Homo sapiens: one gene and its partner. The protein of the gene in region 2 purifies or fractionates together with the protein of the main gene of each other region. This does not show direct contact. Each region holds a gene or a part of one and is shown on either strand. Other genes may lie near its edges. The genes, in order: LRRTM4 and NDRG2.

Evidence for each region.
Region 1: the proteins of NDRG2 (region 2) and LRRTM4 purify together in Homo sapiens (co-immunoprecipitation; one large-scale study listed by IntAct). This does not show direct contact.

Annotation. Positions count from the first base shown.
Region 1 is NC_000002.12:77,515,839-77,519,647, reverse strand, and holds part of LRRTM4 (leucine-rich repeat transmembrane neuronal protein 4 isoform a precursor), read left to right. Parts: coding exon 1-1,330; coding exon of another isoform or gene 1,331-1,336; exon of another isoform or gene 1,337-2,990; intron 2,991-3,809. UniProt on the Homo sapiens protein: May play a role in the development and maintenance of the vertebrate nervous system. Exhibits strong synaptogenic activity, restricted to excitatory presynaptic differentiation.
Region 2 is NC_000014.9:21,022,013-21,026,398, forward strand, and holds the start of NDRG2 (protein NDRG2), read right to left. Parts: upstream 3,050-4,386; 5' UTR 2,018-3,049; exon of another isoform or gene 1,964-2,017; intron 1,496-1,963; exon of another isoform or gene 1,310-1,495; coding exon of another isoform or gene 1,304-1,309; coding exon 1,229-1,303; intron 894-1,228; coding exon 852-893; intron 486-851; coding exon 380-485; intron 171-379; coding exon 50-170; intron 1-49. UniProt on the Homo sapiens protein: Contributes to the regulation of the Wnt signaling pathway. Down-regulates CTNNB1-mediated transcriptional activation of target genes, such as CCND1, and may thereby act as tumor suppressor. May be involved in dendritic cell and neuron differentiation.

The DNA of each region.
Region 1 (3,809 bases), on a different chromosome or scaffold from region 2:
GAAGCTCAAATCCAATCAGTTTGCCGGCCTTAACCAGCTTATATGGCTTTATCTTGACCATAATTACATTAGCTCAGTGGATGAAGATGCATTTCAAGGGATCCGTAGACTGAAAGAATTAATTCTAAGCTCCAACAAAATTACTTATCTGCACAATAAAACATTTCACCCAGTTCCCAATCTCCGCAATCTGGACCTCTCCTACAATAAGCTTCAGACATTGCAATCTGAACAATTTAAAGGCCTTCGGAAACTCATCATTTTGCACTTGAGATCTAACTCACTAAAGACTGTGCCCATAAGAGTTTTTCAAGACTGTCGGAATCTTGATTTTTTGGATTTGGGTTACAATCGTCTTCGAAGCTTGTCCCGAAATGCATTTGCTGGCCTCTTGAAGTTAAAGGAGCTCCACCTGGAGCACAACCAGTTTTCCAAGATCAACTTTGCTCATTTTCCACGTCTCTTCAACCTCCGCTCAATTTACTTACAATGGAACAGGATTCGCTCCATTAGCCAAGGTTTGACATGGACTTGGAGTTCCTTACACAACTTGGATTTATCAGGGAATGACATCCAAGGAATTGAGCCGGGCACATTTAAATGCCTCCCCAATTTACAAAAATTGAATTTGGATTCCAACAAGCTCACCAATATCTCACAGGAAACTGTCAATGCGTGGATATCATTAATATCCATCACATTGTCTGGAAATATGTGGGAATGCAGTCGGAGCATTTGTCCTTTATTTTATTGGCTTAAGAATTTCAAAGGAAATAAGGAAAGCACCATGATATGTGCGGGACCTAAGCACATCCAGGGTGAAAAGGTTAGTGATGCAGTGGAAACATATAATATCTGTTCTGAAGTCCAGGTGGTCAACACAGAAAGATCACACCTGGTGCCCCAAACTCCCCAGAAACCTCTGATTATCCCTAGACCTACCATCTTCAAACCTGACGTCACCCAATCCACCTTTGAAACACCAAGCCCTTCCCCAGGGTTTCAGATTCCTGGCGCAGAGCAAGAGTATGAGCATGTTTCATTTCACAAAATTATTGCCGGGAGTGTGGCTCTCTTTCTCTCAGTGGCCATGATCCTCTTGGTGATCTATGTGTCTTGGAAACGCTACCCAGCCAGCATGAAACAACTCCAGCAACACTCTCTTATGAAGAGGCGGCGGAAAAAGGCCAGAGAGTCTGAAAGACAAATGAATTCCCCTTTACAGGAGTATTATGTGGACTACAAGCCTACAAACTCTGAGACCATGGATATATCGGTTAATGGATCTGGGCCCTGCACATATACCATCTCTGGCTCCAGGGAATGTGAGGTATGAACCATGATCCTCCTAAAAGCATTTCTACTGCGGGGAAGGAGAGGTAAATGTTTGAAGCCCTAGAGGTGTCTCTAATCACTAGAAAGATTAATGACCCTTTTGCTTTTGGGTTTTGCTCAGTGTGAAAGGTTACTTAATTAAATTACAACCACCAGGAAATTGACTGCTTTTTTTTTTTTTTTAAATGGTTGAAACTTGAAGGAAGTTCATTCAAGGATAAGTTGGAATAAAGCACTATGTTAAAACATCTGCTTTTTAACAATTTGTATACAGGGGTTGGACTTAAAAACACACATACAAACAAAACTCTTTTCATTCTGAAATTTCTGTCTGGTTCTTGGTGTTTGACTGTTGTAATGGAGTAAAGAAGAGGGCCAGCTTAATTTAAAAATAAAGTGAGTTTACCAAAATTCCAGAAGGTAATGAAGATTTAAACCAAAGAGCAATTTTCCCAAGGGTTGATTTTGTTGTAAATTTTTAGTTTTAATGAAAGCATGCAACAGGGATCTCACACCCATGTTACTTGCCATTTAGTTATTATACCAGCATAGAGAATGTCAGAGGCCTACTGTGTAATTGTATCAGGCTCCTAAGGCTTCTTTCTTTTTTTTTTTTTGTTTCCTTCTTTCCTACTTTCTTTCACTCCTTCCTTTCCTTCCTTTCTCTTCCTTCTTTTTTTGTTTGTTTGTTTGTTTTTTAATTACTGGGATATAGATCCGATTTCAAAGGTTTTTATGCACTGGCTATTTGTGTTTAATCAGAATGAAACTTCAATTCCATGCTTTGGCTTTGTCCCTGGTAACTAAAATCAGGTCACAATTTTGTGGATGATTTAGCAATAATAAAATGGCAGTCATAACAGGGACTGTTTGTCAGTATTGCTGTCATCCCCAAAAGAAATGATATGTATTCTTGTTAAACTTATTAAAAAATAAGTGATACAAATATTTATAAATAAAAGGAGAGAGGTTTGAGTTCTGGGTATCCTCCCTTTCTGTAACAGCCTCAAATAAAGGTGTACCTTCCATGTTATATTATTTTTGTTTTTATAAGAATAAATTTGGACCCGGTTTCTGATTATTTAATTTAAAAGATCACTTACAGGATCATGTTAGTGAGCAGACAAATAGTCACAAATTTCAAACTTGTCAATAAGTAATGCTGGATGTAAATTGTTCTTTTCTTGGTAATGTTGATCATTATGTGCAAAGACTGACTACTAAGGCCTTGTTGCTGGAAGAAACTAGTGAAGAGAGGTTAAATTCTGGCAATATAATGTTTTAGTATCTGATTTTAGATGATCACTCTTTCAAAAGACAGTTTTAATGAGTAATTAAAGATGTTGCCCTTTCTAATGCTAGTTAACAGTTGGAAAATATAATTGCTCTTTGATAGCATATACTCCAATTTTTCCATAGTCCTAACTACAAATGCTAATGAAAATGTTTTCAGACAAAGCACTGAATTTGAAATAATCTCTAACTCAGTACAATTTGGACTATTGAACTGTTCTTCAAAGAATTCATTTTCTTCTTTTTTGTGTATCATTGAAAATAAGAGAAGTAATCCCAGATAATAAATTCCTAAAAGGAAACTGTATAAGCAATTGCCCTTAAAAATTAAAAAGAATAAAAGATTTTCTATAAAAGTCTAACAAGGCTTGATGTTTTTATTGCAGGCCCACAATTATACAATATACTTGAGTATTAGTAACACAAGTTCATCCTATTTTATTCTGGGTTCTCCTTATATTTTGTGATCCTCTTAAAGGCTGGTATATAAAAAGAAAAGAAAATTCTAGACGCATTAATTCATTTTCTCTTGACTTTTGGAGTAGAATGCTAACTTTTATGTTTAAGAATCACCAAGAAGAAAGAAACATTCTTAAAGAACCAGGATTTGAGAACTGGGGTTCTAAGACTTTTCCAGAGATCTTAAATTTCACAGATTATTCCATCAAAAACCCTAGGCATTACCATGACAGAAACAAGTTTAAAAGATGGTTCATTTAATTAAAACGTGTGTTTAAATAAACACATTTTGATATTGTATGTGTTATATAGATTGACATTTAATGTCATGAAATTGCACTAGTATTGTTGAAAATGAATGTGTTGTTAAGGCATTAAGTAATGAAGAATGTAATTAAATATTGTAATAATTCTGTTGAGTCAAAATGGAATCCTTACTAAAGTAGCTCAAACTTTCTGTGCCCTCAAACATGGACATTAGTAGGCTATACATTTAAGATCATATGTCCATTTAGGATGAGGAGGGGGGTGCTATAAAACTATATTTAAATGAATTTCAACTTGTTTTAAAACGAAAGCATACAAAAACAAACATTGCAGGGGTCACCCCATTTTTTGACAGAATGTTTGCTGTATTACAGTTATAGGTAGATATAAATGGTGAGGAAAAGCAAACTCTTAGAAATTGTTATAGGGAAAACCCTAATTACTTCTTACTTCTT
Region 2 (4,386 bases):
CTGTCCTGTTCCTCACAGTCTGGTGAAGCAGTAACGACCTAACTCTTACCCCAAAGGGAACACAGGGGCTCCCTCTTCCATTCCAGGGGCATCCACATGAACCCGCACAAAGTTCTGAATGATTTCCTGCATGTCCTCGAACTGAAACAGTGGCTGGAAGCAAGATTTATCTAAAGAGAACCCACATCACCTCAACAATAGAATCAGACAGGGACTCGTGTCCCCCAGTCAGAACTCACCCTTCCTTTCATGCCACAGTCAGACCAGGAGAGAACTTCTCCTTCCCACACTGACCCCTCCCCTCCCTCTGGGTTTCATTTCTACCCTTCCCCCACAGCCTCTTCCCAGACAGGAGTGGGAGATGAATGAAGGTCCTTACAGTTGAGTCCCACATCGTGGTAGGTAAGGATCGCTGGGCGTTTGGGTTTGGGGGTGCCATAGACAGTGAAAGTGACAGAGCCGTATGGTGTCTCCACAGAGTGAGTCTGCAGGAAAACAGGGCACCAAGAGCTAGGCTCAGAGGAGACGAGGCCAGAAAAGGAGCAACACCAAGGTCAGGGAGCTGGGAGTGGGTGGGCAAGAGGGAAAAGGGAACAAAGAATTAAAAACAGGATCAGCAAGAATTGAGGAAAACATGATACCGGAAGATGAGTTTGAGGATAAGAAAGAATAATGAAGATTAGAGAGAGAAGAGGAGGGGAAGGAAGGAGAGGGGAGAGATAGGGAAGGGAAAGGACTAGAATAGAAGGAAAGAAAGCAAAGAGAGAAGAGAGGGCCAAGCAGAGGCCATCCTTCTACTGGGGAAGAGGACAGCCCCTCCTCCCACCTTGGGACTGCCCCCACACTGTTACCTGTCCCTGGTCCAGGAGGATTCGGGCAGCTAACTCAGCCTCCTGGAGAGACACACACGGATTCACACAGAAACACATGACCATGTGGCGTCCCAGATGGAGAGACAAACAGACAAAGAGAGGCAAGTAAAGACAGACCAACAAATGACCAAAGACAGAAAGAGATTGACAAAGAGAGACACGGAAAGGATGAAGGTTAGTGTAGTGACGAGACAAGGGCCTGACTCCCAATTATAGTGTATGGGGAGAGAGACTAGGGTAGTGGTGAAGCAGTGGTGTGAGTTAGAATAAGATCAGTACGCTTGGGAAGTTAGAAGGCAAGGGGGATGCTTAGAGGTCTGGAATTTGGGCATGGGAGTCAAACGGTCTCTAATAACCTTGGCCGCCTCAGGCGTCTGTCCTGGCAACAGTGGCTTCTCCTCTGTGATCTGCACCTCCTGCAGCTCCGCCATGGTGGCCTGGCAGGATGAGGAAATGAGACTGGGAAGTTGTCTCTACATCCCCACATCGCCTCAAACACCAGGCTTCCTCTCTCAGCACAGGAAGATGCAGGGAACAGAGGGACCCAGGGGTTGAAGACTACTCTAGAACACACAGAGGGCCTTTCCTGCCCCCAGCTCCGTTTCCAGGCTGATCGGTGGAAGCTTTGGAAGAGGAATCAGGACAGCCCTTCTCTTGATACTCACCATCCCCACTGCCACCCTCAACACCACACCTCCAGACCCCTCCCTCCTCTGCCCTGGACCAAAATACCAGGGTGGGGCAGAAGTGTAGCTCAGATTTCTCGGGCTATATTTAGGGGCCACCCCACACTCTCAGGTAGGGAGTGAAACTTGTAGCTCAGTGACTGAGTATTCTAAAGGACAGGGTACCAAAAGACGGGACTGTGAGAGTTCACAATTGACCATGACCTTCAATTAAAGCCCCAAAGTCGGCAGCTCAAAGGGGGCTAAAAATGACCAAAGCAACATGACCAATGGGGGAGGTGGGGAAAACAACATAAAAGGGACATCTGTCCAACCAACCCAATGCCTCCCTTCCTCCCAAGACCCTTCCTCCCAACTCTGAATAAACTCCGCAAGTTCAACATTAGTGGGTGAGGAGCAGAGCACCTGGACAGACCTGCACAGGAAGGAGCCTGCAGCCTGCGGGGTGGGGTCACTTACTGGGCTCCTATTGGCTGGATGCAGTGGGATTAGGGGTCAGGGTTCTCACTCCTTCTGACTCTGGGGTCTGAGAAAACACAGCAACGAGGTGAATGACATGGGAGACAGACCTGGGGTCTTTCAGGGACGGAAAGCCTCAGCCAAGACCCAGACTCCCAGGGTCATCAACCTCCTCGGGTCACTAACCCTCCCCAGTGTCTGTCTACCCCTAAGTCCAGAGAACACGTCCTCTCTAGGCTCGAGCCGGAATCAATATAGGCTACAAGGGCATCAGTTCAGGCTGCGCGGAGGAGAGAAGGAAGTGCTGATGTGGAGGTAAGAGGGTGGCCCTGTCAGAACCTCCGGATTCGAATCCCGGCTCTGCCACTCCCAGTGTGACCTTGCCCCAGTTAGTTACTACATTTGGCCTCAATTTTCTATCTGCAGGGGGACTAAACGCGGGGGAATAGGGGATCCCCAAAATTTTTGACAGCTCTCCAGTAAGAGGAGGGTAGCAGAGCATGGCTGTTTCCCTCCACAATTTAAAAACAAACACAAAGATTGGTGCCGTCGCTTCTCTCCTCTACTCAGTCTCCGTGTAGGTCCCACGAGTGGAGAAAGGGAGAGGAGAGCGGTCCCACAATCTTCTCCCGTTCTCCCCCGACGGCCCGCGAAGGCAAGCGCCATCGGGAAGGGATGGGTAGGACAGAGGAGACCGGCCGGGCCCAGCACCCGGAACCCGTCCCTACGAGTCCCTACGCAGCCCGTCCGCGTGGAGACTGACACCCTTGCGTGGCCGGTGCCAAGCGCCCCGGACCTTGCACACAACCTCGCGCGCACCCCAAACACGCCCTGCAGCTCTTGGAGCCTCAGCCTTTGTGCGCAGCAACCGAGCGCCCGCTCCGTGCTGGCCCTTTCCCCCGAGCCTCCAGCTCCAGGGGACGCGGATCAATCACACCGCCCGCCGGCCCGGCTGGCGCCTTCCAGGCCCTACGGCCCCTCGCCTGCCCCTCCCCCTACCTGCTGCCGCCGCGGCCGCTTCCACCTTCACTTGCCTTTGACTCGGGCCCGCCCCGGCTCGGGCTTCCCGCAGACCCGCCCCCGGCCCGCCCCAGCCCGCCCACGGGCGCTAGGCTCCCCGCAGACCCGCCCCAGACCCCCAGTAAACACGCCCCCCCTTTCACCCCGCCCAGACTGCCGCTCAGGAAAGGGTTGTGCTGGGGCCGGGGGGCGAGGGGCGGGCGGCTGGACGCTTCCAGGCTCTGCTCGGCTCACCAAAACATTCCACCACCCCCTCCCCGCATTGGGGCGGTGTGGGGAGTGCGGGGATCCCTCAGCCCTGAGAGGGATCCCTCGGCTGCCCTCAGCACCGCCCCATCCACGACCTGGATCTGCAATTGCACTCTGGCTCCTTCCTTCGCCCCCAGACTCAGTGGTGGGAACCGGTAGTGGGGAGACGAACCCGGGATACTGACACCCCACGAGTTCGACTCCCCCCGCCCGAACACAGAGAACTAGATTAAGAAAGGAGGAGGTGGGCGGGACCGCCGCTGAGGAGGCGGGGGTCTCGCCGGCTGGCAGGGGCAGGTGTGCTGGCGCCGAAAGGGGGCACGGGGGAACGTCGAGGGCGCAGGAGTTCCGACTCCCTCGTGCCCAGAGTCCTGGTACCTCTCCTCTCTTTGCTGCGTCCCGACGCCTGCTCTCCGGCTGCTCCGGGAGAAGTTGGACAACAAGGCGGGGAGGTGGGGGCGGGGAATGCGGGGGGCCGCTATAAATAGAGGGCGATCGCGGGCAGGCGGGGGGTGGGGAGAGGATGGCCAACAGGGACTCTGGGGTCAATGCCTCAAGGGGCGCGGGGGAGGGGCCGGGGACCCCCAGAGGCTCTGACTCCTGGGTAAACAGGCGCAGGGGCGGAGTTAACCCTGCGGGGGTGGAGTAGGGGCTTGGGGAGGACGCAGTGTCCTGGGCTGGGACCCAAGAGACCCTGTGGCTTCGCCGCTAACCCCTCCCAGTCCGGCCCAGAATAGGAGACCAGCTCAGGCCCGCTGAATCGCAATGCCCGGGGGATGGTCTCAGGGTCTGCCGCGTCCCTCTCGGTGCCCGAGTGGGTTTGCCACTGTAGACTTTACACACACACGCACACGCACACACACACACACACCCTGGAATGAGCTCTCCTTGTGCCCCTCGGAGGAAGGCTCCCTGGAATGAGTTAGTTGATTAAAAATGTGGCTTAAGGGAATTCGAAGTTGTTTAGGCAAAAGGAAACCTGACTGAATTTCTCCCCACCTGCCCCCCTTGTAGCTCCCCCAATCCCAGGATCATATCCACCCCAACCCCCTTCAGACTGGTTCCTGAGTTGCCATTTCGGGGGCTGGGCGCCAGGCCAG